Linked DNA regions of Homo sapiens. The protein of the gene in region 3 interacts with the protein of the main gene of each other region in a biochemical or structural test. Each region holds a gene or a part of one and is shown on either strand. Other genes may lie near its edges. The genes, in order: TCF7L2, USP47 and TLE3.

Evidence for each region.
Region 1: the proteins of TLE3 (region 3) and TCF7L2 form a complex in vitro, tested with the Homo sapiens proteins (one study listed by BioGRID).
Region 2: of the proteins of TLE3 (region 3) and USP47, one has a biochemical effect on the other in vitro, tested with the Homo sapiens proteins (one study listed by BioGRID).

Annotation. Positions count from the first base shown.
Region 1 is NC_000010.11:113,147,250-113,157,462, reverse strand, and holds part of TCF7L2 (transcription factor 7-like 2), read right to left. Parts: intron 6,481-10,213; coding exon of another isoform or gene 6,466-6,480; coding exon 6,340-6,465; intron 5,739-6,339; coding exon 5,579-5,738; intron 5,131-5,578; coding exon 5,023-5,130; intron 1-5,022. UniProt on the Homo sapiens protein: Participates in the Wnt signaling pathway and modulates MYC expression by binding to its promoter in a sequence-specific manner. Acts as a repressor in the absence of CTNNB1, and as activator in its presence.
Region 2 is NC_000011.10:11,843,032-11,853,244, reverse strand, and holds part of USP47 (ubiquitin carboxyl-terminal hydrolase 47), read right to left. Parts: intron 1-10,213. UniProt on the Homo sapiens protein: Ubiquitin-specific protease that specifically deubiquitinates monoubiquitinated DNA polymerase beta (POLB), stabilizing POLB thereby playing a role in base-excision repair (BER). Acts as a regulator of cell growth and genome integrity.
Region 3 is NC_000015.10:70,084,705-70,094,917, reverse strand, and holds part of TLE3 (transducin-like enhancer protein 3), read left to right. Parts: intron 1-128; exon of another isoform or gene 129-192; intron 193-341; coding exon 342-386; intron 387-10,213. UniProt on the Homo sapiens protein: Transcriptional corepressor that binds to a number of transcription factors. Inhibits the transcriptional activation mediated by CTNNB1 and TCF family members in Wnt signaling.

The DNA.
Region 1 (10,213 bases), on a different chromosome or scaffold from region 3:
AATAGAACGAGGAATCATCTGGGCTCCTTTCACAACTGCTGAGTGGGCTGGGAGCAGTGGCTGACGCCTATAATCCTGGCACTCTGAGGGGCGGAGGTGGGAGGATCACCTGAAGTCAGGAGTTCAAGACCAGCCTGGCCAACGTGGCGAAACCCCGTCTCTACTAAAAATGCAAAATTAGCCGGGCATGGTGGTGCATGCCTGTAGCCCCAGCTACTCGGGAGGCCGAGGCAGGAGAATCGCCTGAACCCAGAAGGCGGAGGTTGCAGTGAGCCGAGATCATGCTACTGCATGCCAGCCTGGGCAACAAGAGCAAAACTCTGTTTAAAAACAAAAAAACAAAAAACAAACAAAAAAAACCTGCTGAGTGGACATCTGTAAGAAAGAAGATGTTCCCTCAATTCTCTTCTAGCTGACATAATGAGGATGATACCACTCCTCCCATGAATGGGTCACATGTGTTGAGCATATGCCAGGTGCCAGGCATGATTCTAGGTGTGCTACGCAGATGGACTCATTTTAATCATCACAACAATCCTCTTCAACAGGTATTACCACCATTCCAGTTTCACAGAGGAGAAAACTGACGAGTTAGGTAACTTTGCCAGGGTCACACATCTAGCAAGTGGTGGGGCCAGGAGAGAACTCAGGTGGTCTTGGCTCCAAAGCCCTCAACCACAAGGCTCTGCTGCCTACAAGTTTAATGCCCAGCCCTCCAAGGAAGCTCTTTTAGTGAGGGCTTTAGGGGATGAACTGCATGGAGTCTTTCATATTCTCCAACCTGATCCATCTGCTCGAGGTTGCAAATGTGGAATGGGACTGGGGGGAATTCAGGAGAGGCGACTGCCTCATTCCGGATTGGACTAGTTCTCCCTCCCCTCATAGCCCTACCAGATGAAGTAGCTGCCTGGCATACATTGAAATGAAATGGTCTTACACTGCTATATGTTTCAGAACAGCTAAAAGTTGCCTTTGCCTAAAGCTTCTCACAGTATGTTGATGTCAACTCGGAAGAGAAAAAGACAATGATAGGCAGAAAGAAACTTGAGGTCCAGGTGCGGTGGCTCACGCCTGTAATCCCAGCACTTTGGGAGGCCAAGGCGGGCAGATCACAAGGTCAAGAGATCGAGACCATCCTGGCCAACATGGTGAAACCCCATCTCTACTAAAAATACAAAAAATTAGCTGGGCGTGGTGGCACATATCTGTAGTCCCAGCTACTGGGGAGGCTGAGACAGGAGGATCACTTGAACCTGGGAGGCAGAGGTTGCAGTGAGCTGAGATCGTGCTACTGCACTCCACCCTGGTGACAGAACAAGACTCAGTCTCAAAAAAAAAAAAAAAAAAGAAAGAAAGAAACTCGAGAACACGTTAGGTTCTGTCAGGAAAACCTCAAGGTGGTGATGCCACCAAGCTTAGGCTCCACCCAGGGCTGAGGGCCATCTGTTGTAGAAATGGCCTATCTTTTCTGTGAGGGGAAGGGGCCTGTGCAACTTGGGAGCTTTGTTTTGGCCTTCTGTTCGGGGATCTTGTTGAAACGCGCTATGTTCCTTCATGTACAATTTCTTTTAAAAGGACCTCATGTGCTTTATCATGAAGCTGGCATCTCATGGGCCTGCAATGGACCATCTCCATGCCCGCGCCTCTCCCACGTGAGGGGCAAAGTGCCACCTGGCTATCCTGGAACAGGCAGGCGGGCCTAGTTTCGGTTCATTTAGGAGCCTGAAGTATTCATAAAAACTGGGCACAGAAATGTTTTAACTTCAAGGAGTATCAGCATCCACATACCCAAGGGCTTCTCAGCCATGTGTGAAAAAGCATCCCCGTTTCCAATTCCTTGCAATATACTGTGAAGGCATCTGAAAATTCCTCTACACACAAAGAAGCTGTGCCTTTAGGATATAGCACGGAGATGTTGACTACTGAAGAAGTTGTCATTTAGACTAGAGACTTCTGGAGGACAGGGATTGTGTTTTAATAAAAAGAAGACATGAGAAAGTGGATAAACCCTACACTTAGTGAAGAGGAAGATGCATCTCCAGGGAAGTGGCCACGCTACTACCCCTTTAAATGTAACAGAAGAAAGAAAGGGCCTACGATATGGGTAGAAGAAAAGAAACTCAGGTGAGCAAATGGCATGGGACCTCTATCCTTTACCCAGTGTAGAGGGTTAAAAAGGAAATAATGTCAAATATAATCCCAGGGGTTACATATTACTATGGGACTCAAGATGTTTTCTCTTGGGCTCTAAAGAAGGTACCAAGTCTGACAATCCAAACGTGACTGTTTCACTCAATTCTGTTGTCCTAAGGTAAAGATATAAAGGCTTCCGTTACCAGTTGGCTGGAAAAGCAGGAATGTGAAAGAGCCATGAGAAGATCTCAGGAAATATTTTCCAGAAGAAGCTTTTGGAGTTTACAATGACCAAAGTAATATATGGAAACTCCCACGTCAAGTTAGTTAAAAAAAAAAAAAAAAAATACTAGTTAAGTTGCTACCACATTCAAATCCATAAAAGCTTCAGTGCTGCGGTTCTTAGTCCCAGTGTTCCCTAGCGCATAAAAGGAAGGCGTGAGTGTGAGTGTGTGTGTTCACACCCATGTGTAATGAGCCATTGTAATAGGAATCTAAGTACCTCTTACAAGAGATAAAGTTCCTAGAGCCCTAAATCCAGATCTCTAAACCTCAAATCGTCTCAGGAGTTCCCTTATTATACCAAACCATCTTCCAAATTTAAAACTGAGCTAAAGTCATTTCGAGTGCCTAACAGCCCTTCTGAAACCGAGAAAGTATGTCACAAAAAGCCTCGAGCAATACTTTCTCTAAACGACTCCCAGGCAAGTCAAACACGGTATTCTTTTGAAGCTATCACAGTCTGCCTTGTACCTTTGTAGAGATTTCACCCTGCACAACTCCAGGGGGCACCATTCACATAGACCCCAGTGTAAATGACATACTCTAGAGTTGTGCAGTGCACGCCCTGCACAGCTGTACATGAAGGCCCTACTATGACCCAAAATGTCTATTGGGGATATGATCTCTATAGAGAAGCTGAATTCCGCTCTGTGGTATCATTCTAGATTACTCAAAGAATTGGGTCTGTAGCAGGTAGAAGCTCAAGATGAACTCTAAGAACTTCTGACCCGAAACCAGGAGAGCAGCTGTCCTGAAATGATATGGTTGTGTACGTGGAGGCTATGGAGCCTGCCTGCTACTGGAAATCTCCACCTCAGGGTCAGGTGGGGGTGAACAGCAAGCCTGTGGGAGAGCATTCACTTTCTCATCCTCTTCCTTTCAGCTCCAGAAGAAAGGCCTCCCCACTGCACACATGCTGGGGACAAACAGAAAGGTCCCAAGCAGTGGAGACCCCGTGCAAGCCCATCTGTCGGCGACAAGGGCTCTCAGCAGAGCACACGCGCCATCCCAGAGGTGCCAGCACTCCTTCCTGATTCAACTCCCAGGAGGAGCACAGTCTAGCGCTGCCAGCTAAGGGGGCAGGGCCTCGAGAAAGATGGCCAGGGGCACCTCCCTGTTCCCTCATCTACATGGCAAGCACGGGTTTAAAAGTATGAGAAGAAAGAGGAAGGAGGCCTGAAATTACTCATCAGAGCAGGCAGAAGCAGCTCTTCCTCAGGATCACATAGGCCGGCAGATGTTTGCGATTTCCTGGCGGATGCTAAGTTCTGAGGGAGTAAAGATATCCGACTTAACTCTGAATCCCTGTAATAACTTGTGCACAGTAACTGCACATTTCCCAGCATCTCCTGCAGTTAGGTTGGGTCACATGACTAGCTCTGGCCAATGGGTGATGGGAGTAAGTGACCCATGACACTTCCAGGCCAAGGCAGTTAAGAGCTGTGTGTCCCCAGCCCCTGCCACAGAAGCCTCAAAGGCCATGATATGTTTCACTCAATTCAGTAATAATTTAACGACCTCGACCCCTATACGTCAAGCTGCTTCACCGCGGATGATGCCAGTGGGAGAGTCAAAAGTAACTGGAAAAGTAACCATCCATGGCTCCAAGACATCGACAGGAAGGGGATGAGAGGCCTGTGCCGGCCTTAAGACAAGTTTTGGTGTTCCCCTAAGAGTGGATGGTGAAATCCCTTCACGGAACCAAATGTCATGAAATAAAGTATCAGGCAAAACAAGAGGCATTTCATCCCTCGAGAGAGGAAAGCGGAGTTACTGGGCAAAATGGAGGATAACCAGCAATGGTGAGAAGTGACAGAAGTCTCCGGAAGACAGCGTGCTCATGGGAGGAGAGGAATCGTGGGGTCACAACCACTGCAATTAGTAAAAACAATCATCCCATGGTGTTTCCTACAACCCAAGAGAGGACTAGGCAGATCCTGTAGCCAACACAGAGCCCAGGAACACACACACCGCATAGCACACTTTCCCTGCCCTTGCTGGGGCCAGAGTCGGTTCATGCATCCTGCCAAAGGCTGACTTCCTCTGGCTGCTTTCAGGGATATTCCCATCATGCTCCTCTCAGGATGAAATAGGCTTCTAACTTCTACTGCACCATGGCACAAAGGAATAGTTTTGTTTTTCCTTCTTAACGGTAAAGGGCCTGCTGAAAGGCCTGGGAGGAATTAAATTCTGTTCCTCCACACCTACCCACTGGTCTTCCCTAGAAGGCCACACCACTGATCACTGCTGAGGAGCCTGCGGAACCTAATCCGGAACATAAGGTCCTTTGGGTGTATCCTAAGAGCCTTGCCTCCTCTAGAAAGGAGACAAGCACCAAATCAACCTCATTGGTCCTGAGCTGGAACACTGGGACTGCAGCCTCCTCTCTCCACCCTGAAGAATGACTGTGAGCTGATCCAACCATCCACACGGGAAGCCCCTCCCTGCAGTTTAGCGATCCAGGAAGATGCTACCAGTCCCCAAAGCGGGCAGATTGGATGGTCCTGAGGCCCACCCTAGTCAAGTGGCAGGTCCTGTTCTCTTTGTCCGTATAGACGCACAACACAGCTCTACAGACTCCAATCCTAACGAAAATGATCCACCTACATAGTTATCCCGCGCGGACCAGCCGGGGTACAGTTGCATATGAAGCTGTCGCTCCTTCCGGGCCAGCTCGTAGTATTTCGCTTGCTCTTCTCTGGACAGTGCATGCCACTGGAGGGGACGTGGGGTACAGATGAGAAAGACATGAACAAAGAGAAAAGCATGAAAGAACATCACACATTACGCCAAGGTCAGGGGATAAATAATGCTGCCTTTTTGGGTGAGTCCGTCCAGAAATGGTATAATCTGTACATACTGACCGTCGGCTGGGTCCTGGCACTAACAGGAATGTTTAGACAAAACTTGATTTGTTATCTATGTCATTCTGTCATTTGCTCACTCGCTCGGGTAGGGGAAGAGCATGGCTGTGGCTGTTCTGAACGCTGAGTGCAGAATAACTAGTCCTGACTCAGTGAAGGCCATTCAAGGATTCAGAATGTGGCTGAAGGGCAAGAATTCTCCAAAGAAATGGGGACAGAGACATTCTGCCACCTGACCTGCTGCACTCTGGTCCCTCACCACCCGCCCCCCGCTTCTCCCTGAGAAGGGCGTCACCTACCCTCCGCCCAAGGATCTGGTTGATGGCCGCGCTTTCTTTCAACGTGCACTCAGCTACGACCTTTGCTCTCATTTCCTTCATATACAACATGAATGCATTAAGAGGTTTCTTTATGTGGGGCTTCTTCTTTTCTTCTTCCTTTTTGGAGTCCTGATGCTTTCTGGAGATAGACAAAACAGACGCAACCCAATAAACAAGGTCGTGGTCCAACTTCCTCCATGGCAGGGAACGTATCTCCTTGTCTCATAACCCCCAAGCCTAGCAGTTTTGGATTAAAAAGCATGCTTTTAGTTCTTCTGCACCCCGGAAAATGGAACAAAAATAGCTTGGGGAGGGGTTGGGGGAAGAGAGGGATTTTGCAATCACTTCCTCAAGTTTCACAAATATACAATTTTCCCAAGCCAGAGGGGAAAGCACATGGTTGCTGTCTTCACCTCGGCAGGGTTTTCTCCTGCTTGCAGAACAAAGCTCTAAATGTTCAATGATGCGGTTAGGGGGCAGGGAAGTGGTTGCAAATCCCAGTGTATCCAAGTACACACACAAAAAACAGTTCTGTTCTAACCCACGGTGGTACAGTGAGATTCTGCCACTGTGCACTCTCTCTCTCTTTGTAAGGGAGTGAAGAGCCCACACAGGCTGGGTATTGGCTGCAGTCAAACCAAACGAGGCCAACCTTAGGCAGAAAGCCACCACCCAGCAGCTGCAACAGGCTTGCAGAACACTGCGGCTACGAAGAAGGTGAGAAAAACAGCAACACTTACGAACTATGGAGTGAGCCGACATCACTCTGGGACGATTCCTGTTTGACTGTTGGTGTGACTATGGCCGGATGCGGAATGCCCGTCGTGTGTAGCGTATGATGTGGTGGGACCATATGGGGAGGGAACCTAGAAGACAGAAAGCTGTGTAAATCGTCAGAATCAAAATGAATGAATGAGGAGGGATGTGTACACACAATTAAAAAGAAAAAAAAAAACAGCACGTAACACTCACATGAAAGCAACCCAAGGCATATGAAACCTGTCAGCATTAATTAGCGATAAATTAAACATAATGATTCTCATAATGTCATTAAAGCCAATTCATTATTGCTACTGACATAAGACATTATGATTTTTAACATCTTTAGCAAAAGACAAATTCAACTGACGTACTTGGGCGGAAAAGTGGGCTTGGACTACCTGCCAGAAATCGCACGTCCACTTGTTTTTTGAGGCATTATTAGTGGCATCTAAGAAGACAATTTCCTAAGTCCTAATCAGCTCTAAAATGAAAGGTGAAATCTTTTGTTGTATATTGACAGCTAAATAAAATATTAACGTGGTTGAAATATACATACATTTTTGACAATGCTGTGCAAGCCTCATTAGGCCTCATCCTGTTGATGAAGTGCAATACAATTTTTATTTTTCTTTTGTGCTGTGTCCCATCATTTGACAGGAATGGGAGAGAGTGAGGCAGGAAGACAGGGAAAATTCAAATAGTTCCTATTTGGTTCATATCATAAGTCATGGACATTTTAAATAAGTTTCTATCCCTTTATGGAAAGATGCAAAAAAAAAAAGGAAAGGAAAGGTGCACACACACACAATAAACCTTTGATTCTGATTTGTATGCCCTTTCTCCTCTAAAATTTAGGATTCCTATATCACTTTTACTTCATATGTTGTCTAGGCATCATTAAGAAGTCTTCTAAATGATTATCAAAATTATAAATGAAAGATACAGTTTGTGTTTTCTCCTCTCATGCTGCTCATTTTTTGGACAGTTCTCTAAGGCACATTTTAGGACCTGAATTGGCATTTCCCAACCAAGTACATTAGCCAGGACAGAAAGAGCTAATCTCAACCTACTCTTGGCCCATCTGCAGACTGACAACTGGATCAAACACCTTTCTCATTTTCAATTTTGCGTGGTGTCACCATGATTTGTACTGGGTTGGAAGACTCACCCCTCTTCAAGCAACATATCCTACTATAGAAAAAATAGTGAGGGACAGAAAGGGCAGAATCCCAAAAGTAAACAATATGGCAGCCTCCTGCTCCAACCTGGCAAGGTGATTCAAGTGAGCAGATGGGAAGCTGTTCAGATGAAGATCATGGCAACTGTTGCTTTCTTAATAAGTCCAAACCAAAGCAGTCCAATGTACCATCCAAGGAATAACAATCTGCTCTTTACAAAGCCAATTCTGGTGGGAACTAGAGGGCCTAATGAGGATCGATCACGACAATTCTTCCAAAATGATTCTGTATGTATTTACAAAGTTTTTTCCAGAAGCGGGCTAGAGATAGTTTCCATTCAGCCAAAATAAGGTAACAAACATTAATTTGAAAAATAATAAAATGATTAAAGTACTAACTGAATCTACACAGATCAACAGAGGAAGGAAAGTTAATGCTGATTCTTGAAGAAGGCCCAAGCCACAGTAGACATTTCACTCAAAAATCCCACGCTGACGTGGCCTTTCCTGCCACTGCCTTTACAAATTTAAGCCAGTAGTGAAGACTGCATGACATGATTTTAAAAATAACAACAATACAAGTCCTTCGAATGTATCAAAAAAAGAGAGAGAGAAGGAAAATGTAAGGAAACAAACATGCTAACAACCTTCATCTTCATCCCCTTCCTCTCAAAATAATGTGAAAAACAAAAAAAGCAAAACCCCTTGGGAGACACTTGGGCTCCAAGTGACACCCTGTTCCTTCCCACTGCTCGAAGGCCTCAGAGGAAACAGAAGTTAAGAACATGTGTTCTTGGAAGCCCTTGGGTGAAGTGGTGGGTGGCAGCTTTTACTGTGAATTTTGAAGGCCTGACATTCCTCAAATACATATGTTCCCTTCCTGCAGAATGAGAATATGTGTACAGACGTGAGAGGGAGAGGGAGGGGGAGAGAGAAAAACACTGCATGTGTGAGTGTGTGTGTGTACGTGTGTGTACATACACCAAATACCACGGGAAGGCACCACAATCTGAGTACATTTTGGGGTGCAGACAAACTTCTAATGCAGCCATGAAGAAGGCACATTTCTAAGTTCCCATACCTACGCGTATATTCCCATATCTGAAAAATGTTCAGCAAAGAAAGAGACCATGTGTGAACATGGATGTGGGCTGTATACACATACCTTCGCTTAAGAAATTCCTTTCTGCAGACTACTATTTCATGAAATGCAATAAACACCCTAAAAATTCTAAGCAGCTCATTATATACCCCCGTCTGCTTTCATGGCTCCAAGCCAGAATATAATGATGAACCTTAACTTGTTAAGAACAACTAATTTTTGTTTCTGGCTGTCTCAGGGGCTTCTCTCTTACTCACTCTCACTTTACTTCACTGTTGACACGTTTCTGTTAACCGGATGTCATCTGCCGGCCTTGATTTTATGCACAAGCAGTAGGATGCATTTTCCTGTGCAACAATCCTGCTTTGAGTTGCATTAGGTTTGTCATTATTCTCTCATTTTCCCCCTTGCACTTGTAACATTTCATCTCTTCCTGCCTTATTTTTTGTGAGCCACGGTGCACCCACATTATGGTTTATACATGATCTCGCTCCCTTTGAAGCCGGCAGATTTCAGAGCCGGCTCTCGTCAGGAGAAGAGCCTTGCACCAATTTAGCAGGCTGAGGGCCCGGAGCTCCAACATCTCAATCTAAAGGGGGTCACAGGGTGGCACAAGTGAGTGTCAGCAAGAGCTGTTTAATTGCCAATCTAGGCTTCTCCATGGTGTTTAAAGTATAATGACCCATCACTTAATTCTGAGAAGTCCTGGCCCCACTGCTGAATAGAATGAATATCAAAGGGTGTTCTGGAACAGGGCAAGCTGCCTACATTTGCTATAACTGCCATAAGTATAATAGACCTATACTTCTGTCGCCCCATTATCACAATAATGTATTTAATTTGCTGTATATGCTTTTTAACTAGCTATCTTTCATTTGGCCTACCTGGGGAGTCGGCCGCCTCTCCCCGCACCTTGAGGCCCTAACCTTTCTTCCTGACGTTCCCTGCCTTTCCTCCACCCCCATGCCCACCTATAATTCATCGACTAACCTCCTAATGATAATTCAATCGATCAGCTTAACCCCAATCCCTATCCTACAATTACTTTACCACTGTTAACCTCCAGAACGCACCAAATAAACAAACATGAAAAATAACCAGGTGTAATATACAAATGCTGGGAAGGTGGGAAGATGAGCTGTGGAGTATAAGCTGCTACACTAATAGAATGACATGTAGCCGTGGTCCCTGGGTGCTCTCCACCTGGGAGACCCCCTACTCATTCCCATGCTTTGCGAGGCTGTGATGACACTATTTAATAAGTGTTACGCCTCCTCTTCTCTCTAGGCCAGAGAACACACGAGCGTTTTCCTACCTAACTAATACTGGCATGGATTTTGAAATTTTGATGATATATCGCAGGTAGAAAATGGATCTCTTCAACTATGATATCCACGGCATAGTTACCGATGCTAGATATGCCACGGTTTGTTTTTCTTAATGAATGTAACTCTCTATCACTGCTAAAGTTACTGTTTTGTAAGTAGGAAAAGCAGCATCTTGACCTGTCTTTCCAGGCCCTTCTCTGGTCTTGGCTTCCCATGTTGGCCACAGGGACTGGGGAAAGAAGCTG
Region 2 (10,213 bases), on a different chromosome or scaffold from region 3:
AATAGGTATTTAAATATATATATTTAATGCTCTGTTTTTTACAACCCCTGTTTTTGATACAATCTTTTCTTTCTAACTTGGGCTATCACCATACCCTACTATTCTGGAGATGCAGGAACTCCTCCTTTCCATTTGGCAAAAAAAAAATTACAGTATCTGGGCACTAAAAGACAAAAAATCTATATGACTAATCCAAAAAAGAGAAAATAGAAGATAGGCAAGAATCCTAATTATTCAAATAGTCATTTTCATGTAAAATAAAAGTCCACCCATTTAAAACTCCTTAAAAACTGCAGGACAAAAAGAAATACTTCATAGTATTCAGTCAGGGCAAGGGCACAGAAGTGACACATGAACATATAACAGCACATCTGAGGAACAGCAACTAATGTAGTGGAATGTGGTTTGTACAAAACTGGCTTGGGGCATGAGACAAAAACATTAAGAATCTCTGGTTAAAGAGGATAGACTGAATATAAGGATTTAGCTCTGATGCCTCCCAGTTAAGAAATTTTTGAAAGACTATTAACCCCAAACAAACAGAAACACAATTTTAAAAGCTAGAAAACAGAATAAGTGGCAATGACAATTACAACTAGGAAGGCTGAATTCCATGTTAGCCTAGAAGAAAGCAAAGACACCTAGTTTATATCACACTGACATTTAGTACACCAAAAGACCTCTAAACTCCTTGGAGAACTGGTTGATTCCAGGGTTGGGGCAAGGAAAACATAAGATGGGCTGAAGCATTATGTGGTGTTGGAAAGTAAGGAAGTGAGTGCTCAAAAAGCAAGGATGAGCACAGAAGCCCACCAGAAAAAGCACCCCCTGGCAAAAATTGGAACAGCTTGATCAACAAAATAAATGATATAGAATTGGATTATAATCCAAAGAATAAATATCCATAAGTCCATACTGATACAAATAAATAAGTAAATAAATGGGGGTGGGGGGAAGGACAAATTCTCCTCACAGAAGAATTTAAATTAATAAATGTAGAAATAATGAGAGAAATAGAAAATCACTATTATTAAGCCACAGTAATAATTGCTGCAGGCAAGATCACAGATAGATGATAAAATTAGTGGGCAGAAATTTAGGGGGAAATAGGTTATCTGCATGGTCTCAAAGAATTTGATTTTTAAAAGCTATTTTATTTTTAAAGTTTGACCTGCCTGGCTGAGTAACTTTAAATCAAAGTACTTAATAATTATTAAAGGGAAAAATAGTAACTTCACAGTGGAGAAACCTAGCAGACACCCTCTTACCCAAGTGATCAAGGTTAACATCACCAGTAGTACGTATCAGCATCATGCCCCCCTACCAACATAATGCACTAAGAAGAACACATCCCATCTGTGATAATCCTTCTTTTTATTCATAACCTCAATCTATTCATGAGAGAGCATCCACAAACCCAAATTGAGAGCCATTCCATGAAATAACTGACCAGTACTCTTCAAAAGTGTCAAGATCTTGAAAATGAAGACTGAAAAATTATCACAGATAAAAGGAAACTAGGAGATATGATAACCAAATGCAATGTGGTATCCTAAATTTGGATCTTGAAACAAACAAAAACTATAAGAGGGAAAACTGGTAAAATCTGAATAAATTCTGTAGTGTAGTTAATAATATTATACTAAGGTTAATTTCTTCTGATCATCGTTCTATGGTTATATAAGATGTTAAGATAAAAAGAAGCTGGATGAAGGGTATACGGAAACTTTGTACTCTTTCCGCAATTCTTGTGTAAATACATTAAAGCAAACAAACAAAAAAATAAACTAAGGGGCTCAGGAACTGGAAGTTTCAGACACTTTGGGAACGAGAGTGGAGTCCAAACTAGAACTGACCAAAATCTAAGAAGTAGTGAAAATCCCCAGACCTCCTCTTCTACTCTTCAACCCTTTCTGATAAAAGACTAAACAATCTCTAGAGAGCATATAACAGGATATATCTAGACTAGAGGACAACATGCTCAATTGAATTTGAAGGGTGCCATAATGAAAACTGGGGAATTAGGTTAATCTGCATGCTTAAAGATGAGACCCATATCCCCTTTTCCTACTCAGCTCTCAAGCTTGTTCTCTCCTGGCAAAAGATGAGAAATTTTGTCTGGGAAAACAATCCAGCACAAAAGAAAAGATGTGTCACTGGGTGCCCTGGTCTAAATGCCTATGTCTCCTTACCCCAAAATTCACATGTTGAACCCTACTTGCCAATATGATGATATTAGGAAGTGGGATCTTTGGATGGTGACTGGATCAAGAAGGCAGGGCCCTCATAAATGAGATTAGTGCCCTTGTAAAAGAGGCCCCAGAGAGCTGCCTTGTCTCCTTCCACCATGTGAGGACACAGCGAGACGGTGCTGCTCTGTGAACCAGAAAGCAGGCTTTTACCAGACACCAAATCTGCCGGCACCTTTATCTTGGACTTCCCAGCCTCACTCACAGGAACTGTGAAAAATAAATTTCTGTGGATTATAAGCCACCCAGTTTATGGTATTTTGTTTTTGCAGCCCAAATGGACTAAGACTGGGAGTCTGCAAGGAAATCATCCAGATTTACCATCCTACACAAAAAACCATAATCACACAAAAGCAGAGCTTCCATTCAGCTTAGGGCCTCTCTCTTAAATAAGCACAGACTGCCAAGGATCATGAGACATCTAAGGAAAGCAACAAATATGAAAGATAAAGACCAAAGCAAACAAACAGAAAAAGGAAATTTGGAAGAAAAAGAATATGCAGACAAAAAAAAAAAAAACTACCAATATTTCCTAAGAGAGATAAGACACTGCATCCATAAAACAAATATAGGATTTTTTTTTCAAAAAAAGGAATGGAAACTATACATATTATAGCAGAAATAAGAACTTAGTAGAAAAACTGGAAGACAAAGTTGAGAAAAATCTCCCAGAAAGCAAAGAAAAAAAATGTAAAGAAATGGAAAATAGATGAAAATAGACAAGAAAATTAGAGAAACCCATCAGTAGGCCCAACATCTAACAACAGGAATTCAAAAGAGAGAGGAGAGATAAAATGAAGGAGAGGAAATCAAAGAAATTATTTAAGGAAAATTTGCAGAATTTATGAGATAAATTCCAGATTGAACAGGATTAGCAGAATGAATTAAAAAAACAGACATATAACTACATAATACAAGAATTTCAGAACTCTGGGGACAAAGATTCTCTCTCTAGCTCGCAAAGAGAAAAAAAGAAAGTTTCAAAATAGTTGAAAAGGATGTTCTAAGCATCTGATCTCAACATCGACACAGAAAAATAGAAGACAGTAGAGCAATGCCTTCAAAATTCTGAGAAAAAATTATTTCTGACTCAGAGTTCTCTGCCCAGCCAAACTATCCATAAAACAAGAGGGGAGAAAAAACATTTACAGACATGTATAGTCTTGAAAAAATTCTATCCCATCCAGAGAACTATTGAAAGTGGCCCTTCAAAATGAGAAAGTAAACAAAGACAGCCAAAGATACCAGATACAGAAACAGGGGCTCCAAAACAAGACAGAACTGAGAGAATCATAAAGATGACAGTAAAGCAAGTCCAAGACAACAGCTGCACAAAAGTTCTAGCTTTAACAAGTTCAAACTGGAGTAGGTCAGAAGGCCCTGGGAAAGAGCTTCTCACGAAGTCAAAATTGGTAGGTTTGAAGATAAGCCATTTATACACTTGAGAGATAGTTTGGGCTAAATCAGGGTTTCTCAACAACAGCTCTACTGACATTGTGGGCCTTCTAATTCTTTGTTACAGGAGGCTGTCTTGTGCAGTGCAGAAGAATATTTGGCAGCATACCTGGCTTCTACCCACTAGATGTCAGTAGCACACACCCGCACTCTCCTCCCCTCCCCCAACATTGCCAAATGTCCTCTGGAGAGAAAATGGGCCCCAATTGATAACCACTTGGCTAATTTAATAAGTATACAGAAAACTAAGCAAAGCAAAATTGTTAAAAATTACTAACTCTGGCCTAGCTAACATGGTGAAAATGGAGTCATTATAAACTGAAATACTGATGTATACAGGCTGGGCATGGTGGCTCACGCCTATAGCCCTAGTACTTTGGGAGGCTGAGGCAGGAGGATTGCTTAAGCCCAGGAGTTCAAGACCAGCTTGTGCAATAATAGTGAAACTCCATCTCTATGAAATGCGGATGTATCCAAACGACTTGCAGTATGACAATATTGGGAGTACTGGGCAGGGTTAAAATGTGTGCTTGTGTGTGGTTGGGGATAGTGGTAAACCCTCATTTTTACTTAAACTGAAAAATATCTTAAACTGAAAAATCAAGAAGTAACACTATAAAAACGCTAGTTTCGGCTGGGCATGGTGGCTCACGCCTGTAATCCCAGCACTTTGGGAGGCCGAGGCAGGCGTATCACGAGGTCAAGAGATCAAGACCATCCTGGCTAACACTGTGAAACCCCATCTCTACTAAAAATACAAAAAATTAGCCAGGTGTGGTGGCGCGCGTCTGTAGTCTCAGCTACTCAGGAGGCTGAGGCAGGAGAATCGCTTGAACCCGGGAGGCAGAGGTTGCAATGAGGTGATATCGCACCACTGCACTCCAGCCTGGGTGACAGAGTGAGACTCCGTCTCAAAAAAAAAAAAAAAAAAAATGCCAGTTTCAAATATGGAAGTAAGTATCAAAAGAATGAGTTGAAAGCAGTTGCCCCTAGGCAGCCTGAAATGAGGGGAAATTTGCAGAGACCTACTGTTTTTGTAAATATAGTCATGTGCCATATAAAGACATTTTGGTCAACAATCACAAAGATGACAGTGGTCCCATAAGATTACAAATACCATATTTTTACTGTACCTTCTGTATGTTTGAACACACAAAGACTTATGATGTATTACAACTGCCTACAGTATTCAGTACAGTAACATGCTGTAGCCTAGGAGCAACAGGCAATGCCATATAGCCTAGGTGTGTAGCAGGCTAAACCATCTAGGTTTGTGCAAGCACACTGTATCATGTTCAAATGATGTCTAATGATACATTTCTCAGAATAGGTCCTCATCATTAAGTGACAAGTGACTATAGTTCTGCAGAGCTATTTAACTCTTATAAATATATGCATGTATTAAACATAACTTTGATAAAAATTAAATTTAAAAAATCAACTGAATCCATATTATCAAGGACTTTCCTACTGGTTAAAGCTACCTTGATTTAGAATCAAATAGCTATGTAACTTTGAGCAAGTTACTTAGCATCTTTAAGCCTAGTTTCTTCATGTGTAAAATGGATAATGAAGAATAATAGCTAATACTGTCATACTGTCAAATGAGATAATGTAAGTGAACTGGTTAGCATAGTGTCTAGCACATACTGTTTACAAATAGTACCTATCATTCAAATTGCAATCAGAGGGTAATAATTATAAACTTTAAAACAGGTAAATCTTAATCTCATCTGTTTTAGAAAGTAACCCTGGCAGTTGTGGGGAGGATGGTTAAGAAAGGAAAGGCCTTGGAAGCAGACTGACCAATTAGAAAGGCTACACATTGGAGAAAATAACAATAATTAGACAAAGGCAGAGCCATGGAGAGAAAGATAAGGATACAGAGACATTTTCTAAGTGGTGAACTATATGTGAGAAAAAGGAAAAGAGAGGAGTCAAAAACTGTTCTAACTTAAGCATATAAATAGATGGCGATAACACTAACTGAAACAGGAGAACACCAAGAATTGGGTTGTGAGAAGGGAAGGAGAAATAAGTTCGATATTACCTATATTTAATTTGTGGGTCCTAGAGTACAACCAAGTACAGATATCCAGAACAGTGGAAATCTGAATCTAGAAGGGGTCAGGGCTGGAGATATAAATGTGTAAATCACAATCAAAGGTTGAAGCTATACAAGTGGATCCGATTACTCAAGACAAATATACAGAGTAAGAGGAGAGGGGAAATAGGAAAACTGTGAGCACAAAAAAAAAAAACACTATGTAAATACCCCCAAAACTACAATCAGATCATCTCAATTTCTGTTTTTGAAAATAATGTACATGCTCATTTTTAAATATGAAAGTCTAAATATATATCCCAATAATCCAGAAATTCAGAAATAGCAACTCTTAATATTTTAGTGTATTCCTTCTAATCTTTCAACGCATTTAACCCTAAATTGTTCATTTTTTCCTGGACAAAATTAGAATCATATACAATTCTGCATTCAGCTTTTGCTTTCATTCATTAAATGAGCATTTCCAATGATATCTAAAATACTGACTTTTATTAAACACTCCAATTTGTTTAAAACGCTGGCGGGTATAACTTGACAAACTTGTCTCTTACTGGTAAGAGAGAGTCAACATCTGAAATTTAAGAAAAAGCCTCATTTTAAAAGAATCACTAAAATCAAGAATGACAATTGCAGCACATTTCCTCAGGTAATTTAATTAGGAGAAATAAAATTAAAAGAATATGCATTTGACATGTTCCATAATAGATACTGATGAATGGATTTTATAAGAAGTCAGACAATAGAAATAAAAATAAGTTGTTTTTGCTATCAATGTGTCTTATGTACTCTGAGGTTGCTGTGAAGCTCAAATGAGTTAATACAAAGCACAACCAACAGTATCTGGTATATAAATAAATGCTCAATAAATACTGGTTATTACTATCATCATCATCATTAGATGCCAAAACCAGTTCCAGACAGAAGTAGTGATTGCATGAAAGACAGGAGAAAAAAACCCAGAGATAAAGAATTTACATTTCTACTCTTTTTCCTTCATTTTTTCCATTTTCTCTGGATTTAGAGTCCATGAGCACTACTTTAAGTACTGCAGTTTAAGTATTATTTTTAAAGCATCAGTAAATATGCACCTTATCCTTGATCATTCTATAAGACACTTGAGAGAAGAACAAATTTTTCTATTCTAAGTTTTTCCTATTTGGCAGAATACAGTAATATGCACAGTGAGTACTCAATGAATATTAATGACACACATCCTTATAAGAAAACAGAATAACAAAATAGCAACCAAACAATAATTAAAATTGGGATGCTATTAAAAGAGACCTCAAAGCAGAAATCAATATACTACAATTCAAAGACATACGGCAGAATGAAACGGGTGAAAAGCTCTGTTCTTCACCACAATGAAGAGATACCACTCTCTTTGCTCTTTCTGGGTACAACAATTTAGGAGGAATACTAAAAACCCCAGATTATGTCCAAAAGAGAGGAACTAAGAAACAGTTAAAGAACTGAGGAAGCTCAGACTCAGAACAGAAAAGGTCAGTTCTCAGGCTACCCTCTCCCATCTTCAATGATGAGAAAAACTATCCTATGGGAAATGCTTTAACATTTCTGTAAGGCAACTATCAAAAGATGGCAGCTATAGAGATCTAGACTTCTCTCAACTCAAAAACTTAAAAATAACAGATCTCTTCTAAGACAAAGATTTTATCAAAGATTAGTCATAGAAGTATGTATTAAAGCAAAAGTTGGCAAATAGCTTGCCAATGATGCTGTGGAAAACCTCCAAGGACAGGATAATTGGTTAGAATGCTAAATTTACTTACAACTCTGTCACCACATCAACGAATATTTACTGAATATCTGCTCCAGGAAAGACACTGTCTTAAACCTATAGTACAAAACCTACAAAAACAAAAAGCAAAGACAGAGAAACATACCAAGTCTTTGCTGTCAAGGAATTCACAACAAATAATATATAAAATGTAGATTACAGTTTCAGATCATAATAGATGTCGCCAAGCACCATCTAGTAATTGCCAAATGAATTCTATTCCTATATAAAGGTCTTCTAAGAGGGAGAAATCTCTAAGGTTAAAATGGTCAGAAAAGGCTATTTAGCATAAATGAGATATGAGGTACTTATGGAAAAATGTGTATGAAGGTTTTGAACAGGAAGGAGGGGGCAGCACAAACAGAAGTGAAATGCAAGTTAGAGAGAAACCTGTTTGACTACATTAAAAACCTGTTTCATGGGAGAAGAGATAAGCTGGAAGGACAGGTTGTGGCCAGAATCAATGGTACTGGGCCTTGAATACCAAGCTAAGTAATTTCAAATTTATCCTGCATAGAGTCTCTGTAGCAACTACTCATCTCTGCTGTTGTAGCCATACAAAATACTAAATAAATGGCATAGCTGTTTCAAGACTAAAATTTGAATTACACATTATTTTCATGTGTCACAGACTATTATAATTCTTTTGACTTTTTTTCTTCAACAATTCGAAAATGTAAAACTCATTCTTAACTCACAGGCCATACAAAACCAGGCTGTGAACTGATCTGGACCACAGGCCGTGGTTTGCCAATGCCTGTACTACACTAAGCTGTCTTCTTCAAGAGTCCTCTAAAGGTACATTTGTCCTTGAGTTTCAGGGACCAAAATATATTATTCACTGAACAACTATACACTCCAACACACGCACGCACACATGCCCACATCTAACCAAGATCTAAATCTAGCAGGGGTCAGAGGTTCCCTATACAAAGGCCCTCAAAAAAAAAAAATCTTTAGATTATTGATAATAAGCCATTAAAATAAATGCATGAAATTTTTTAATTTGCCATTTATTTTCACATATATATGTACTTAGAGAGTTACAAACTATTCTTACAGAGCCTCTAAATTACATGTAGGGCTCTGTAAAATAGGGTATAATCAAGGGAATAGTAGCAAAGGAAGTGAGTTCTAGCACTAGGTCTGCCATTTACTCATTATTTGACCCTGAACAAGTCACTTTCAATCTTCTGGGCCTAACTCCCTTAACTGTAAAGTGGAGGGGTAACTTAGATGATGATTATGCTTTCTCTTAGCTCTAGCACTGTATGATTCTACTACTGTTTAAAAGGACCTGTCCCGGAGCTTCAAGGATCACACAAAAGTGCCAATTAAGAATACAAAAAAGAAGAGAAAGGCCTTGACTAAATGAGTGGGCAGATAGGACAAACAGGTGGGAAAATGACCAGAAAAGTGGAGTATCACTAAAATCAAGAAATTGTTTTTTTAAAAAAACTATCAGATCCTGCAGAGAATTCGAACAGCAGAAGAGGCAAGAAAAAAAAAGTCAAAGAATTTGGTCATTTAAGAGATAACTGGTGATTTTCAGAAAAAGTTTCCAGTAATCCAGAAGCAAATATGGAACTGGAGGCAATCACTTTAATAAAGAATGAGTGTGGCCATCAAAGAAGAAAAAGCTAGTTGGCTAGCTATAAAAGGTAAGAACCACAGATCATGCTTCCAGGAATCATGAAAGGAACCAGGGAAAAAGAAGACTGAAGATGAGACTAAGGAATAGACAATAAAGGCATATGGTCCATAAAAAGAAGAAAGGGAAAAAACATAAGTTGTGATGAATTTAAAGCCTCAGGGAAGGGAATTAATCTTAAAAGGACAGGCATTTAATCTTTAAACTTCCGTTGCTGTTATCACTTTTTACACAACAGATGTTTCTGCAAAGCTCGGTATCTATTATCATATCATGTTTTCTATAAATCAAGTTATTAGGGAAATAAATCTAATGTTGGGTTTTCTTAAAGCAGAGTTCCACCTATATGATATTTTTCTAATGGTCAAAAAATTAAGAAAGAATTTTGTTTTTTATAAAAATGAAAACCAGCAATATGAAGCTCTAAAATGAAATACACATTTATACCTTTCTTACAGCACCTATCACTTCCTTCCTTGCATAAGAATTACTTACGTGGTAAAGTACCTAGTCCCTAATTGGAGTTCAACAAACACTAGTGTTCCCTTTCTTAGTAGCTCAGAAAGTTCCCAAGGCAAGAATTCTGATTAACTCATCTGTTTATCTGCTTTGCACAGAGTTGGTGACGCTTGATGAACAAATACTGACACATAACTCTCTGCCTTTTACAAAAATCGTCCTTGCAAAACAACTATCACTGCCCTTCTGACAAAGCTGGGAAAATACTTGTATCATACAGGTACATAACTCCAATAATATCACCCTTGCATACTGTCAGAGCTTGCTTAAGTAACAAAGAATTGCTACAAAACAAGTAAAACAGGCACAAAAAAATTTAAGAATCTGTAATGATCACTCATTAATTTCAAGATCGCACACAGTTAATTTCAATCCAACACTTGTCTCTATTTAAGGTATATGAGAAATAAAAATCCAAAGCATTAGCCTGATGATCAGCCAGTTAAAAATACACATTTGAATACGCCGAAGATATT
Region 3 (10,213 bases):
AATAACTCTCAGAGGACAAGAGGGTCCCAGTGTACACACGATTCCCTGTTGAACCTGAACCTTGTATAAACAGGATATAGGGCACATGTGGTGCTTGTGGGAGGGAAGGCCCAGCTCCCCTTACTACCACATAATATAACGTTCTGTTGAGATGAGAGGAACGCTCGCCCTTGTCAGCTCTTAAACCGCTCTGTAAGCTGGCTTTGGGGTTTGATTTAAACTTCTTTAGCAAATGTATCGTAAAAGTATGATTTGGCCAAAACCTTTCCAAGAAAAAACTGATTTTGAAAAATGACCAGATTTCTGTGTTGTCTGTTAATAGCCATTCTTTTTACTTTTAGTACTATGAGATGTCCTATGGCTTGAACATTGAAATGCACAAGCAGGTAAGTGCTTTTCTCTTTTAAAAATATATTTCATTTTTTAAAAACTTATATATGTGGACTTCTTATGTTCTCTCTTGTTTGAAAGTGAGCCTGCTTCTTCGATTCCTCCCCCTTCTCCTTGAAGAGTGAATGGATCCAGTCCTTGAAATGCAAGGTCTGAGGCTTTGCTGATTTTTTTTTAGACATGTTGAGCTTTTAGCATTTGAGCTTGTGAAATTAGTCCTGGTCTTGGATCTCGGTGGAGGATAAAGGACCAAAGGGAAAGTTGTACCTCCAGGATCTGCTTTACAAACTCCTGAAAGCCCAGAGGTGGCTGGCTGCTTTTATCTGTTTTAATGTAAAATTCTCAAGAGGAAATGCAGGAGGATTTTTTTTTTCTTTCTCCTTTTTTTTTTCTTTTTGCAGAAATGTGATGTTCTGCCTTGATAAGATTAAACTTCAAGAACCTTAAAAGCCAGGCTGAGCTGTCGAAATTTAAGGGAACGAAGCCACTAACTGCTTAAAAATATGAAGCCAGAATGAAATACAACTTCAGTGCCTTGCATTGACAAGGTGGCTTTCTCATCCCTGTCTTGATTTGAAGGCAGCCGAGTTCCCATTTTACAGAGAAGGAAGCTGAAGCTCCTGGGTGAAGTAACTTGCCCAGGGGCAGCCTAGCCAGGACTTTCGAGATGGCTGGGGGTTGAGCTCAGCTTTGAAATCCTGAAGTCAAACCAGTTTAGCTAGTGTGGTGTCGTTTGATGGATATGTAAACTACCTGGTATTGTCACTCTTCTAATAACAGTATACCTCAAACCGAGCAAATACAAACACCCTTTATCTCAGTGCATATCAGTAACTAGTCCCAGTGCTAGGCTGGGCTGTGGGAGAGGCCTGTTTGTGTATTTGTGTTCTGAGGAAAGGCTGCCTATAATTTGGCTTGGCCAACGTTTAGAGTTGACTTGGCACGTATAAATGGAGCAGGCAGGCCGGTTGTTCTTTTTAACAATTGGTGTTCATGAAATCTCAGAAGGCTGTTGACTCATTCTAGCCTTTGGTGACCGTGACTTGAATGGATTTTCTGCTCTAAATTAACAGTCGTTTACAAGGTTTCAATTTTGCTCTTTAAGGAGGCAGGACCCAGGGCAGGTGAGAAGGGCAGGTGACCCTGGAAAGTGGGCAGATTCCTACCCACTCGGGTGGCTTCCTATAGAGCCTTTGGGATCTGTAGTTTCCTTTCCCCTCCTGGAGGGAGCCCCCAGTGTTGGGTGAAGGGAAGCCAGAAAGGGGCCTGAGTTTATTGAGCAATGTGTGGGAAGCCAGCTTGTGGCTTCCTGAGGGATTAGTTAGTCCCTTAGGAAGGCACATGAAGGCTACCATGTTTTTACTTCTTGACACACAGAAATAATAGACAGGGCTTTATACGTAAAGATATTTCTCCTTGGAAAAATAGAATAGAGACAGGTTCTGCAACTGGAAGGGGCCAGGTCCCGGAAGAATGCTTGAAATGGAACTGGGGGCCCAGGTGTTTCAAGGACCTTGGGGTGTATGCAGGGTGCCACTTCCTCCCTTTGTCTGCCCTGTCTTAATTTTTTTTTTCTCAAATAGTATCTTGGGTGTGTTTAAAGAGGGTAATTGCACCCAGGTTTAAAATTTATAGCAGCAGTTATTGGAAGAGCTTGGTAATTAAGGTGTAATGTCTCGTTGCATGTTGAGGTCTGCATGGGTGGTGTTCCGCATGTCTGTGAATGAATGGTGCTTTGGCACTAAGAATCCACCTTGGCTCGCAGCAGATCTGTTCTGTGAGTCCTGGGGATGCTGTGAACGCAGGAAGAGTTAAATATCTTAACGCATTTGGTGGTGGGGTTTATATAAAGAGCAGCTGTGTACATCTGGGATTTCTGGCCATTCCCCAAACAAGGTTCTTAAGGGGAGAATGCCTGGGGTTTGGCTACGTTGTCTCATTTAATCCTCTCAGCTGCCAGTGGTGGATAGAGGCATTCTTTGCCCCCTGTTTATAGGTGAGGAAACTGAGGCTTCAGGGAGGCCAGGAGGGCAGAGCTGGGATTCAAATCCAGCCCTCTGGCTTCCCCACTGGGCACTTTACCTTGCTTGCCACTCACCTTTGCCCTCTAGCCTGAGTTCCCAGCCTGAACATGTGTGCTCTGAATGCAGTGGCTTTGCAAGCTTATGGCAGTCTCTGAGTTGGGTGAAATCACCCTGTGGCTGTGGAGGAACAAAGAGGCAAGGAGGTGAAGAAACCTGTGCCGTGAAATGCAACCCTGATCTAATGGAGCTGGCCACTCCCTAGGTTTGCAAGGGTTCTGTAGAAGAAAGCCCTGCCACTAATTGTAGTGTGGGTCTTGGGTGCATTTGGCGAATGGTGGTTAGGCCTGAGCAAACAAGTTTATCAGCTGACCTGTTTAGCGGTTGACTGGTGTTTTATCGGCACACACAATCAAGTGACTGGAGTGCTTGAATTATTCATGCAGTGTCCTGCCCTCTAGACTTGACTGTTCGTGTGATTACATCTGCCTGGAACAAACAGGCTGGATTCTTCATCTTTAAGCTGGGGTGGGGGTGGGGACTGTCTGTACTTTTATATAATAGATGATCTATAGAGCTAGCACCTTGGGAAGTGTGGCAGTCCTCAGCCTGCGCGCATACACGCACACGCACTCCACCATCACCACCACATATTTTTTTTAAAAGCTCTCCTTTGCTGGCTCTATGGGAAATGCCAATTAGCTGGGAACCTCGAGTCCTGCCAGATGGGCCCGGGTATTGACAGAGGGCAGCTGATGAGGTGCGTCCAGCCCATTTTTATTTTACTGAGAGGTTAAACTCACTGTGGCTGGCTCCTTCTCTGGCTGTTTCTCTGTCTCTCTCTTTTTCCAAGCTGTCAAAATCCCAGAGAAGTAATAAATGGTTTCTCCTCCTGCTCTTCTGCCTCCCTCCCTAATTATGGTAAAGCAAAGATTACAGAATCACAGGCCTGGCCCGGGACTTCAAGAGGTCACCCACCTCCACCAAGCCCCCTGCTTCCAGGCAGAATGTCAAGGGTGGTTCAGAGAGTCTGGGAAGGCAGTGATGACTGACCGGCTCATCACTTGCCATCTTGTTTGTGCAGAGGCTTTCCAGTGTCAGCCACAAATAACAAAGCCAGCTTAAAACCAGGGGCCCCAGAGCAATTGCCATGCATTGGATTTGAGGCACTGGCTCTCTGAGAAGCTGGGTCAGGCAGCCTTTTCACCCACTGTTGGTGAGCACTGACATTTTTGAAAGTGGACTTGAGCCATTTTGATTTTGGGGCAGTGTCGTGCCGACACAATACAGTCACCTTTTTCTGTGAACTGAACAACCTTTCCTGTAAGTTTCTCTTTGAATCTTGGAACTGGAAGAGCCCTTTGGCTTCTCATGCAAACTTTTCAAGTTACAGATGAGGAAACGGTGGCCCAGAGAAGGGAAGCTTATGTACTCAGTCATACAGTCCCACGTTAGTGGTAAAGCTGCTACTGCTGCTTCCCTTCCAACCCAGGACTCTTTTCTGTAAGACTCAAGAAATGAAGAGTGCTCCTTTTCTAGTGTATTCTGTGTCTTTAATTACTATTGCTTCTTTCTGTGTTATTATCCAAACAGGCTAAGGCTACAAAACTGGCCCCACCAAAGTCCAAAGTGCCCCATTTCGGGTTGTATAATCATATCACTGAACCCTTATTGTCCACAGTCCTGTTTTGAATTGCCAGCTATTTGCACAACTAATGATTTGATGTGTGTAATAATAATACATAATGCATAACTAGCAATCCCAGAGGAAAGATTCACAGACCGGGAAAGGTGGTATATATAACCTGTGAACTTTTTACCCTAGCCATGGGGTGCCATAAACACAGGGCTGAGGTAGGAAATGGAAAATCCCCATTTGTCACTCCCCTCCCCTCCCCGCTCTGGATCTTCTCATCTAAATGATAAGGGGCTCACCTGGAAGATCTTGAGGCACACAGAAGTTTTGTGACCACGGTGAAGGTGCAAGGTACAGGTGGCCAGAGGGAGCTACCAGGCAATGAGGTTACAAAGGACTCTGCCAAGGAGTTGAGCCTATCTTGATAGGAGAATGTGGGACCACTTGCAAAGTAGAAGGGGTCAAAGGTCCTTAGACTAGGGAAGTGCCTATTTGTGTGGCATCTGAGTTGAGCTGTGAAATTTTTTTTTTCTTTTTTGCCAGAGTGCTAGCATCCAAGAACCCTCCCACCCGGCCCCATGCCCTGGTATCTGTCTTGACTTTTCCTGCTATATTGATCTTCCCTGGAACAGACTGTAATCACGAGTCCTCTCACTGAGTGGGTGCCTGCCTCGCTCAGCTTTGGGGTCTGCTGGGCTCCAAGCTCCCTGCATGCTGTCTAGCTAGAGGGAGGTTGCCCCACCCCTCAAGACTGCCTTTGGACCCCTTTTCTCTAGTTGCCAGTGGGAGTGGTAGAGTGGGGGTTTCAGTGCTTTTGGGGTCTTTTCCTTCTTGTGCATTTGTCATTGAAATGACCCTGGGAGATGAGCAAATGGCCCCTTGTCCTTACTTTACAGATCAACGGGTGGGAACCTGGCTCCTAATTCGGGACTCATTCTCTGAACTCTCTTGGACCAGGAGCCCGTGGCAGACACGGAGTTCTTCCTTTCCTTGAACTCCTCCTTCCCACCTAGGCTGTTTGTTTCCATTTTGTTGAAGGAGTGAGTCAGTCAAGGAATAAATCTCCTTTTGCTTTCTACGTGGGAGAATGTCATTCTGTCTCATTGTTTGTACAAAATACTGGGACACCAGGGGCAAAAACGTGACAAAGACCTAAGCTTGGCAGTGTTTTCCCCTGTGATCTGGCACTCATTCCTCGTCTCATTTTTGTAGGTATGAAGGAAGCCCCTCTGCTGAGGTCTCTATAGCACTTAGTATGTAATAGGTGCTCAGTAAACATCTTGGTTTTTCTTCAAAATTTACTCAGGTTATCTGAGAGTAGAGTTCCGATTCCCTGAGCCCTGTGAGTAGGAAGTGGGGATTTTAGTTGTGGGCTGGCCGCCCGCTCTGCAGGCTTCCTCCTATGGCCCAGCATCCAGTTTCTTCATCAGTGAAATGAGGGGGTTGGATTCATTCCCAAAGCAGTTATTAGGGGACTGGGATGTGCTGGGTGTGGGCTGGGGTTGGTTACACAGCCGAATAAGACACCATTCCCTCTGCGGGGGAGTCGGATGTCTAAAGAAGTAATTGCAATGCAGTGAGGTAAGTGCTAATGTGGCCCAAGTGTCATAGGAGGAGCACCCAGCACAGAACAGCTTATTCTTCTTGGGTGAGAGCAGACTTCACTGAGGGCTTTGCTTGGCGCGAGTCTGAAAGGGAGGGTAGGGTTTATGAGGCAGAAGTCGGCAGCCGAGGCCCCTCCAGGGTGGCAACAGCTCGCGGCAAGGCAGTGAGATATGTTCTAGAAGCCACACGTCTTCGGAATGATGTGGGGCGGGGACTGCACTTGGGAAGTGAGGCGAGGTGGTGACATTTTGCAGCAGAGCGATCTCCAAGGCCCCTCTGCCCTTGCAGTCGCGGCTCCCCACCCGGTGGCTCCCTGCATCCCTGCATGGCTGGCTCTCCAGGGCTGGCCTGAGTCCATCTGCCGCGGGGTGGGGGTGGGGGCGGGGGCGGGGGCCCGCTCTGGGCCGTTTGTGGCCTGCTCTGCCTGCTTTCCTACCGTAATATGCTGCTTTGAACTTTATTCCCCAAAGTGGCATTGTCTCCTTTCTCATATTGGTAATTCTGTAATGACTGGTTATGACCCGCCCCCTCCCCCATATTTAATTCTCATCAGCCCAGCTCTCCACTTTGCTATTAATGATAGCAGCCAGCAAAATAGCTTTCAACATGCCATTGACAGTCTGGTTTAAGAGAGCACTTGAAGTAGTGCTAGACAGCTGAAAGCACCCATAATTGTGTACCAGAGTGAGAACTGCGTGCTCAAGGGCCTTGTTTTTATATGCTTAAAGGGACAATATCTTGTTTTCAACAAATGCTCTCTGAGACTCACAGCCAAGATGCTTTCTTCCTTTTTCCTTTTCCTTTCTTCTTTTGGCTTTCTCTTCTCCTTCAAAATACATATTTAAAAAAAATTCTTTATAAAATAATTGTTCCCTTCAAGTTGGGGTTAAGGAGAAACTTAAGGAAGGGGGAAACGTCCTGCCGCCATGTAAGCGGGGAATATTTGGTGGGTTTGTTGTTTTGAAGCATCGTCCTTTGCAGGCAGCAAGCTGTGGGTCAGCCTTGCCCTACTGAGGGTCCTTAGGACCTTGCGTTTCTCAAGGAGGTAATGGGAGAGTCTGAATTCGCATCAGCATTGATTTTGAATTCTTTTCTTTGCTAAGGATGTTGCACAATCAGTGGGCTGCAGAGCTGTCACTGTGAATGTTTAGGCAGAGGCCACCTTTTGGGGGAGGGCTGGAGGAGAGGGGTCACCGTGTTGGAGAGTCAGGCCATGACCGCTAAGGAATCAGATTCTAGGAGGCTGTTTGCTGCAGAGTTGATGGCCCAAGAGGCCCGTCTGGAAATCAACAGGGTGGGTGGGGCAAGGACTTGTATTCTTAAGTACAGGTTCACACCAGGCTTGGAGGGTTAACCAGGGGGCCCGGCTAGTCCACCCGGCAGATTTTATCTGAGAACAAATACTTTTCTCCCCTTCACACCAGCCGACTTCATTATTGCTTTGAAAATGCAGTCCTTTGGAAGAGGTTTCCTTTGCCTCTCTGTCACCAAAGCCTCCCATTGCCAATGTGTCCTGTGAAGGGAGAAGAGAGAAGCAACTTCCCATCTGTGGGGCCTGAGAGGCCAGGGAAACCCTGTTGGGGCCTGAAGTCTATGTTGTCCTGTTCTCTCCCAGGCTGGCTGCTCTTGGTAAAGGGTAGGAGCATGGATGGGCTTGGCTCGTGTGTCTTAGGTGGTTCCTTCCATCACCCACTGTGTGAAGGATAGGATCCAGTGTTCTGGCTGCTGCCACCACCAAATAATCCCAGGGGAAGTACTTTCCAGAGGACAAACTGTTTGAAAAATTTGATCTTCCAGATATTATAGATTATAATGCTACGGCCTCTTAGAATTTCTGTAGCACTTGATTGCAAAGCAGATTCGACATTTTCATCTTAGCAGCTAAAATAATGGGTATTTGGGTCCAGGACAGACAGACACCAGGATAAAAGCATCAGAGCATACCCTGAAAGCTTGGGGTGTGAAGATGACCTGTGTACTAGAGGGCTGTGTTCTCAAATTGGGGTTGGGGAGGTGAGGCCTGTGCTGTGACAGGACTGTGAGTTCCGTGAGGGACAGGACCATTTTGTATTTGTTTTCACTAAGGGTCCTGAACCCTGAGCAGTGCCTGGCCCATACTGGATACACAGTGTGCATTTTGTGGGGACTCAAGGAAGGAAGGTAATATTCCAGCTCAGGGTTCTCTCTGACCCTGAATAGTGTTATGGACTCTTTGGGAAGGATAGAAGCTTTCTTAGTTTTCTGACAGAGGCCTGTAGGCTGCAAACGTTGTGTTTGTAGAAAGAGTTGTAAAGGTGTCATGAGCCTTTATTTAAAAGTGTCTTTAATGTATCTTAGGCATCTTTTTCTTTTCATCTAACACTATGGACAGTTTAAGTGCAAAAGGGGAAGAAGGCAGGGTGGGGGTGCGAAGAGATAACTGGGAGGAAGAGATGACAAAGCAGAGATGCGGAAGAGACAAGTGCTGAGTGGGTGAATTGGTAAACTCGGCTTGCCATGCCTTGGCTGTTTGGGCATGGAGTTCCAAGTGTTGTGGCCTTATCTCATGAGCCTTTTAAGTTTGACTATTGTTCACAGTTCTTCTACTGCTTTTTTTGTTTGTTAATTTTGAATGAAAACTACCGCAGGCCGATAGAAGTTTCTTTTTCGTTTGCGCTGGAAGGCTGACCCTTTCCTCAAGTGGAGACCCAAATGCAGAAGAGCTCTTCCCACTAGTGTTTTAGCACTGAATACCAAATGCAATTTGGGTACAGGAGAGGGCTCTCCCTTCCTGGTCAGCCATGAAGACTTGAGGTTTAGACTCCACCACCCTGCCAGCTATATGACCAAAAGGTTGGAGGAGGCGGCCTTTCACCCACTTCCCAAATCTTTCCCTTGGGCTAGCCCTCGACAGGTCTTTGCTGAGTTTGGATCTGAAACTGATTAATTCTGATAATACTGGCAGGGGCATGCTTTGGAACCGGTGATGCTTTGTGATTTCTGCTGGGGAAAATGAGAAGAGGAAGGCAGTTCAGTGCAGACTAGTGGACAAGGGATGGGAGTCCATTCTAGCTCTCTGGTGGGGGTGAGGTACAAGAACTTCTATTAACCTTCCTGGCCTCTGTCCAGGAAGAAGTAGGACACTCAGAGGGCTCAGAAGCAGCAGGTGATGCCAGATGGTCTGGAGTGAGGGTCTAACTGGTCGGGTGGGATAGAGGAAGGAGGAGCAGGGGAGACAGAGGAAGTGAGCCTGTTGGCACTGATTGGTCAATAGGTCTTCAGCTCATCCTTAAACCCTTACCTGCTTCTTTTCCTAGAAGGAGGCCCCTTCCTCTGATCTCTCTCTCCAGTGAAGAAAGCTGAAGTCCAGTTCTTATTTTGCTTTGCCTAACAACAGAAGTCCTGGGGAAAGACAGGAAGAATTGAGATTGATGGTACAATCCCTGTCTCCCATCCCTCAATCGCTGGGTTTTCATACTTTATCCCAGAGAAATGGGGGATCTCCATGAAGCCAGACTTGAAATGGGGGAGAAGCAGCCTGGTTTAGAGCTCGAAAGACATGCCCCTCTCCTGCAGGGTCCTGCTGCTGTTGGCCTGGTGTCGGTCTCCATGTCACCCAGTCCTTGTGTGTGGCAGGCACCCACAGGCCTGGTCTGCAGGAACTTGAGAAGTGTCTAGATACCCCTTTCTCTTAGCCTTTTGGGTTTTCTCACTATTCTTTTACCTGGTTTTTTACCTTACTTCTCAAGAGACCCCTACCCAGCTCTTCCTCACTATCCATTTGCCCAGGGATATTGGGCAAACTCCCTTTTTAAACTCCCAGGATGTTGAATGCCCATTGGGCCTACTGGATGATGGATGGGGTGGGTTCCCAGCAAGCCAGTTTTTCTTGGCCAGTGGATTCCCTTTCTCCCTCAGAAGATCACAAGTTCTTGCCGGGTGATCCTGGAGAGTTAGGTATAGAGCACCAGAAGCTGGGAGATTTGTCTTCATGGCTAAGAGGTTGGCTTTGGAGTCAGACAAATGTGGGTTTGAGTCCCAGATCAGTTCATGTTGGTGTGTGACTTTGAGCAGACTGTTTGACCTCTGTGATCTTCAGTTTGCAGTGGAGATAATAATAACACCTGCCTGTTGCGGCAGTGCTGTCCAGTAGAACTTTCTTCAGTGATGGAAATGCTGTATGTCTGCACTCTTCAGTAAGGCAGCCACCAGCCACGTGTGGCTCTTAAGCACTTGAAATATGGCTACTGCGACTGAGGAACTGAGTTTGAAATTTAATTTTAATTAAATTTAGCTAGCCACGGGTGGCTGGTGGCTTCATAAATTGTACAGTTACAGTTATAGGGAGTGCCATGAAGGATGCATATAGCCTGCTTAGCACAAAACCTTGCACATGGAAAGGCCGAAGCAAGGTATTCTCACAAGGGGACAGAGTCCCCAAATTGTCAAGGCCTCAGACATAGAGGACAAGATCCTTGGTGTTGCATATGTTGTAAGATTTCTCAGAGCCCTTTCCCATATGTGACTTGTTGGCTCTACGGTCCTGCAGTGTAGGCACCGTGGGCGCCACGCATCAGATAGC